Linked DNA regions of Homo sapiens. The protein of the gene in region 2 interacts with the protein of the main gene of each other region in a pairwise test. Each region holds a gene or a part of one and is shown on either strand. Other genes may lie near its edges.

What was found. Proteins that work in one complex are often made in the same cells at the same time.
Region 1: the proteins of ROR1 (region 2) and PPM1B interact in a two-hybrid assay, tested with the Homo sapiens proteins (one study listed by BioGRID and IntAct).

What each region holds. Positions count from the first base shown.
Region 1 is NC_000002.12:44,171,730-44,175,483, reverse strand, and holds part of PPM1B (protein phosphatase 1B), read right to left. Parts: intron 1-3,754.
Region 2 is NC_000001.11:64,134,010-64,137,763, reverse strand, and holds part of ROR1 (inactive tyrosine-protein kinase transmembrane receptor ROR1 isoform 1 precursor), read right to left. Parts: intron 396-3,754; coding exon 268-395; intron 1-267. UniProt on the Homo sapiens protein: Has very low kinase activity in vitro and is unlikely to function as a tyrosine kinase in vivo. Receptor for ligand WNT5A which activate downstream NFkB signaling pathway and may result in the inhibition of WNT3A-mediated signaling.

The DNA.
Region 1 (3,754 bases), on a different chromosome or scaffold from region 2:
AAATGGGGGCCTTTGCACACAGAAGGCACTCAGTGAACATAAGAATTGGCTGGAGGGTTACAGACTAAATACTATTAGACTGTTCTGAATTCTTTACTTCTCAGTGGGTTGGTAGCTCAGAGTAAATAAAAGCAGAAAGCCTCCCAAAGCTCAACAAAATCTCCTATATAATCTTAACATTTGGAGTGCTTTGAATTAATTATGTTCCCCCACCCCCACTTTTGTTTTTTTTGAGACGGAGTCTCACTTTTGCCCAGGCTGGAATGCAGTGGCGCGATTTCAGCTGGGTTGAACCTCCACCTCCTGGGTTCAAGCGATTCTCCTGTCTCAGCCTCCTGAGTAGCTAGGATTACAGGCACATGCCGCCACACCCAGCTAATTTTCTGTATTTTAGTAGAGATGGGGTTTCACCGTGCTGCCAGGCTGGTCTCGAACTCCTGAGCTCAGACAATCCGCCCACCTCGGCCTCCCAAAGTGCTAGGATTATAGGCGTGAGCCACCAGGCCCAGTCATGTCCTCTTTTTAAGGGACTAAGAAAGGCCACCTGTGTTCAACAGAAAATGCCATTTCCCCACCTCAGAGATAAATGCTTTAGTCAGAACAAGGAAAAGGAAAAACACTGCCCAAATAGGTTAAACACCCATGCTGACACTTCTAGATTCTCCTACTCATAAGAACATCCAGTAACCAGCCCTTTTCAATGCGAGGAGTGCTCTTGATACCTACAATCAAGAAAATAAAATGCGATTAGATTTAAAAATGAGTTGACATTACTCTCAGGCTTAAAAGCGCTTCGCAAGCCTTCAAACTCTTACAAATTACTCTACATATTATTGATCAGAACTGCTTCTTCTCTGGCAAACAACACTTATTCATTTGTTTTATTTTCTTGTATATTATACGTTTGAATCTACCTGATAACATAACTGCATTTTAAAAGTTTTCTATAAAAGACAAGGTTTTTTCCTATTTCTAGCACACAAATGTACTTTTCATTCACAACTGATTCTGAAGTGAAGGCCATTCTACGTAGACAATAATCACAGCAATCCTAGAGACAAGTCTTATCCTCCCTATATCACTACCAGTAATTGGTACCATCTCTAAGAGAAAGACAAGTTCCTTAATAGTCAATACATGGCTTCCAAAGTTTGTCTGTCTCCTCTAAGTATGAGATCGGATTTAACTGGATCTTCTTTTGTTCACAAGGATGCAAAACAATTTTCCAAGAAGTGTTATGTTTCTAAACTTTAAGATTTTTAATTTTCAAGAAATGAATCAATTTAAAGCTAAAAAATAGAATACTGATGATACTTAAACATTCTCCAAGAGAAAAGTTTGAATCCATTTTATATTTACAAGTTAATATTAAACTGTGTGATAAATCAAAAGTTTTAAATTAGTAAAGTGTGTTTTAAATGTTATAAACCATGTCAAATGTATAATATATGAACTAACAAATTAAAATACTACAATTGATTAAGCTACAAGGTTCTTGAGGTTAAACAAGTTATTACAAAGAGTATTATTATTTTTGTTTCGAGACAGGGTCTCACTCTTTCGCCCAATCTGGAGTGCAGTGGCGTGATCTTGGCTTACTACAACCTTCACCTCTCGGGTACAAGCAATTCTCCACCACAGCCTCCGGGGTAGCTGGGACTACAGGCATGTGCCACCACACCCGGCTAATTTTTGTATTTTTTGGTAAAGACAGGGTTTCATCATGTTGGCCAGGCTAGTCTCGAACTCCTGACCTCAAGTGATTCACCAACCTCGGGCTCCCAAAGTACTGGGATTACAGGCATGAGCCACTGTGCCCGGCCATGAAGAGTATTATTATAAAAGGTATATGTTATGCCAAGCAATAACAAGATATTGTAGATGTGATTAGTTATAGTAAAACAAAAAGAAAAAAATGTATTTAAGCACTCTTCTGTGTCATGGTTTACCATTAATTCAGAAGTAAAGTGTTTATGGTTGTTATTAAAGTTAAACCAAAGGGGAGAAATAAAGCACCCTGTAATTTGAAGGAAAACTACGAAGTATGAGATCTCGAGGGGCAAAAAAGAAATGAAAAAAGAAAACTAAAAAGAAAAAAAGTATATAAGTTATTGTACAGTATTTATGTTTCCTAGGATGTTATATGTTACTAAAAACTAAATCTCAAAATCTTTAAATACTCTGAGAAATAAATACACTATATAGATTACACTTTTGGAAAATTTTGTAACATCATCAAGAATTTAGTAAAGGGTTCTTTTCACCATAACGCTGATTCCAGTATCTGGTCTGTTAGTCTTTTTTGGCCGGCCAGTACACCTGGCTAAATTCTGTATTTTTAGTAGGGACTGGGTTTTACCACGTTGGCCAGGCCAGGCTGTTCTCAAGTGATCTGCCTGCCTTGGCTTCCCAAAGTGCTGGGATTATGGGCGTGAGCCACCACGCCTGGCCACGCTTGTTAGTCTTCTAGGTAGTCTTTAAGAAAAGGAATATGGATGGAAATGTTCAAAAGTGTCAATCATCTCAAATCAAATGGACACAAAGAGATTAAGTCACATCAGAATTTTTTAAAAAATAGAGGCGTGGTTTCACTCTGTCATCCAGGCTGGAGCAAACTGGTGCAATCACAGCTCGCTGCAGCTTTGACCTCCCTGGCTCAAGCGATCCTCCCACCTCAGCCTCCCAAGCAGCTAACTACAGGTGCACACACCACCAAGCCCAGCTAACTTTATTTTTTGTAGAGACAGGGTCTTGCTATGTTGCCCAGGCTGGTCTCAAACAATCCATCTGCCTCAGCCTCCCAAAATGTTGGGACAGGAGTGAGCCACTGTGCCCGGCCTAGAAACATTTTACTTGTAAAGATTCTAAAATGGCTTTAGCATACTTAAATTAATCCAAAAGATGAAAACCCATTTTTTTAACTCAATGTATTGATGTAAGTAAACACCAACAAAAACAAAGAAAAAATACACATTATGAAGCTCATGTACCTTTTTCTTCACCTGTTCTTGTTAGATCAGCCACTAGAAGCTGATGATCAGTTCTGTCATTCTGCAAATTTTATGACAGCCAACTACAAACTACAAAAATTAAATAGTTCCCAAAACTCTATTTCACCATCAATGTTTGAGTATAGCATAGTGAAATGTCAGTACACTTAACCATCAATTCTGCTAATATACGATACATTTTACAATAAAACTTTAAAGCTGCTAATATAATAGCAGTATTCCATTTCATTCCAATTCTGAAATTAATTCAGCAAGGGAAAAACAAAAAGAAATCAGGTACAGTGTGAAGAATAACTGAAAATTCAGGAATATCATACTCCTGAAAATTATCTTACCATAATCATGATTTCACATTTTATGCTATTACTTGAATAAATTTTGCTATTATAATTTTGGATTAAACAAACTTTTATTATTCTGATGCCACCAGTTATTTGTTTGCTAATTTTTACTAAAATCAGTGAATTGTGAAAGGCATATTTCACAGAAAATATAAAATACTGTATGTTGCATTTTTAAAAGCGAGAGTTAGAATTATACTACTTAACTACTTTCTATGCTAGGTAATGTCACAAAATACTTTAAAATAGTTACATATAAAAATATTCATGAAATACAGCTTTTTTTTTTTTTTTTTTTTTTTGAGACAGAGTCTTACTCTGGCACCCAGGCTAGAGTGCAGTGGCACAATCTCGGCTCACTGCAACCTCCACCTCGTGAGTCCAAGTGATTCTCCTGCCTCA
Region 2 (3,754 bases):
GTACGGTGAAAGCACTTAATAATATTTATTGAGTGTTTGAATGAATGTGAGATTTCACAAAGCTTCCTTTTCCTCTAAGAGCAACCTTCAATAAATTACTTTAATGTAAATTCCAGAGCACAGAGATCATGTCTCATGCTTTTTTATGGTCCTGCTCCCAACCTCCATGCTGAGCTTAATCCTTTGTCAAGAGAGGAGCTCAATAAAACTTTTGGCGAGAAAAATAGTTATTCAAGGGACAAATATAATTTCATTGGTGCTACCTACCTGTGATCTGATTTTCTATTTCCCCTTGCATGTGCAAAGACTCCATATAGACGGTGCGGTTGCCAATAAATCTTGCACATGCAATCCCTCTGTATGGCTGACAGAATCCATCTTCTTCATACTCATCTCTGAAAGAAAGCATAGACAGACATTAGCTGATGCACCACATACATACAGGGCACAGCAAGCTCTGACTGCGCGATACCCTAAATAGTCACTAGGGGGCACAGTTGGGCACAATATACAAAAGACTGGGCTAAGGAATTGGGCTTTTGCTCAGTTCTTAAAACATCTGTTGGTCACATTGGTCAAGTTTCCTACACCCCCAGAAAGTCATCCTGAAGCACAAAATCATCCTTAAATATGGGAGAAAATGCTTTTATTTTCGCAGCTGGTGGTGGGCTGGAAGATGATGTAGTTATAGGAGTAAAGAGGAAATGAGTTGGAAATCTGGGCACATGTTCTACAGTTTTTTGTTTTTTAAGCACAGATTATTTCTGCTTCATTTGCTACAAAGGCGTGGGCGAACAGATCCACTCCAACTGACACGTCAATTAGGGGGATCCATGGGGTGAGAAGCTGGGTGCAGCTGGAAAGAAACCCGAGGGTAGCCCAGTTAGGTGACTCTTCACTGCTGAACCTCCATTATCTCTACCCTGCCCAAAGAGGACCAGGGCAAACCATAGTCTGGAGAGTTTGAATTGAGTCACTAAATCCAAGGAAATCTAGAGAAAATGTCCATGGAAAGTTTGCTTTCATGCTTCTCTACAATTTAAAAAAATAGTCTTATTAAAATTTTGCGGCCTCAAAATTATAAGACTTTTTTTATAAGGAGGGGTAATAGATTTCATCTTGAAGACAGAGGGACACCAGAAATGACATGATTCATGTGCCAGGTAAAAGGACTGGAGATCTAAGGCTGGAGATGAAGACCCAAGATGGCAGGCTCAACCTGAAAGGGCAGAGGCTACCATCTCCCACGAGGGCCTACGATGAGCACAAGATCCCTCGAGTGCAGAACATCCAGCTGTTTCTCAAAGGCAGACCATAGCCAAACCAAAGTCTGCCTGCCACGTGTATAAGTTGACTTCAACCCTGGATGCTCCTCCTCAATATATCATCTCAAAAAAAAAAAAAAAAATACACCGTTTTTCCCCTTTGGTTTCTTCTAAGTAAAAATCCCTCAGAGCAAAGTCAGGAGAACAAAATTCTCTTCCTGAGTTTAACATTTGGGCATCCTTAGGCAAGCTGTCTGAGCCCTCTGAGCCACAATTTTCTCATCTACAAGTTGGACACAGTAACTGACTTCTCTGCCCTACATGGGAAAGTCATTATGATCCCATCAGATAATGTAAAAGCTTTTTTAAATTGTAGAGATAATATATGGCTATTCTTAAAGTATTTACAATGACCAAAGGGACATTTATTTAAAAGACAGTTATTTACTAAGCTCCCACATCGTAAGAGGCACTGCGGTTAGTGCTGTGGTGCTCACTTCCCAGCTTGAAGGTCTAGCGTAGGAGTCTAGAAAGTCAAAGTATAGGAGCAAACCAAGTGGAAAAATCACCTGATAGGACACTAATTTTCTGCTTCTCTCTACTCCCATTCATTAAAAGAATCATTTTAAAGGTGAAAGTGGGGGAAGTATCTTCAGTTTAGTACTGAAAATAGTTTGTGTTGCAAAGCTCTTAAAAACTTAACCTTTAAATACACATACAAATGAATATATCATATACCTGACATAAAGACATTGAAATTTTACTGTTGCACAATCCTGCAAGCACTCCACATGTTTACTTTCATAAATCCTAGAGTAATGCTGAAGCCTTTTTGGCTTAAATTTTACTTGGGTTGTAAAATTAACCCAACTTTTATTGGGTAACTAATACCATAAACCTATGGGGAGAAAGAAGGTTCTTGATGACCCACACTTGGATCTTGGAAACCTAAGTACAGAGACCAGAATACACCCCCATGCCACCCCCCTGCTATTACAGATGATGCTTTTCTATCCCTAGGCATTAGCAGAGCCCTGGATTTTTAAGGTGTCATTATGAGAACACTTCTTTCTCCCCCACATTAAACTCTCAAGGCTTCAATTTATATCTCTTGGGAGGACAAAACCCTGGAATTACCCCCAGATATAAATCCCCAACCTACTGGGAGTTCCCATATTTTATGTGTGAGGCTTAGGCTAAACTTCTTACCACCTTTCCAGTTCAAGACTCTTAAAAAGACTCTTTGAATACTTTTTTTCAGAATAAAATGGAATGCAATTCCTTGGCTGCACATTTCTTATCAAAGGCTTAGAACTGCAGGTGTATTAAATTTTTGACTATTCCCAGAATTCCTACTATCCTGTTCAGTCTCCTGGGAGACAGATTTTTTAAAAAAGAACACAAAAAAACCCCAAAACCAGTATGTACTGTTATCTGCTGGGGAGTGGTTCTGTCTTGGCTCCTTATGAGAATCGCCTTGGCAGCACACTGGGAGGCCGAGACGGGTGGATCATCTGAGGTCAGGAGTTCAAGACCAGCCTAGTCAACATGGTGAAACCCCATCTCTACTAAAAATACAAAAATTAGTTGGGTGTGGTGGCAGGTGCCTGTAATCCCAGCTAGTCAGGGGGCTGAGGTAGGAGAATCACTTGAACCCAGGAGGTGGAGGTTGCAGTGAGCCAAGATCATGCCACTTCACTCCAGCCTGGGTGACAGAGTGAGACTCCATCTCAAAAAAAAAAAAAAAAAAGAATGAAAGAATCTCCTTGAGAAGCTTTAGGAAATACGAATGCCCAGGCCCCACCTTAGACCTATTAAATCATAGTCTCTGGGGATGAGGCTTAGGTATCTATGCTTAAAGAAACCTATCAGGTGATTTGAATGTGGTTGAGAACCACAACACTGAAAAAAACCAAACATGTATTAAGTGTCTGCTGCTCTGGGCTGGGTACTGTGTTAGGTGCTTTCTTCAAAGCAGCCCCTGATGAGCTATTATCCTTATTTTACGAGAGAGAAACTCAAATTCAGAGAAGTTAAGTAACTTGCTCAAATTCACAAAGTCAGTCTGTGGTGGAGCTAGGATTTAAACTGAAACTCAAGATGAGGCCACTATCCCATGTTGTTAGATCTGTAACTATGTTCTGCGTTTCAATACTACTCTTAGTTAAATCAGCCTACTCGAGAAAGAGACCTTATAACGAGTCTTGATTCTGTATCAGATACTGCTAAGTTTTATATACTTACAAAACAGATACTAAGTCATTTTATCCCAACAACAATCTTATAAAAAAAGGTAAAGATGTAATTATTCCTGTTCTACAGATGAGAAAAGTGAGACTCAGAAAGCATAGAGAACTTATCCAAAGTTACGCAGCAAGTAGAAGAGCTAGATTTGCTCTAAATAGTGTTTCTAACCACACTCTATAACTTCTTTCCAAGTGGCTTGGCAATGGAGTTTTTGCACTGCTTAGAGGGGCTTTCTGCTGTGG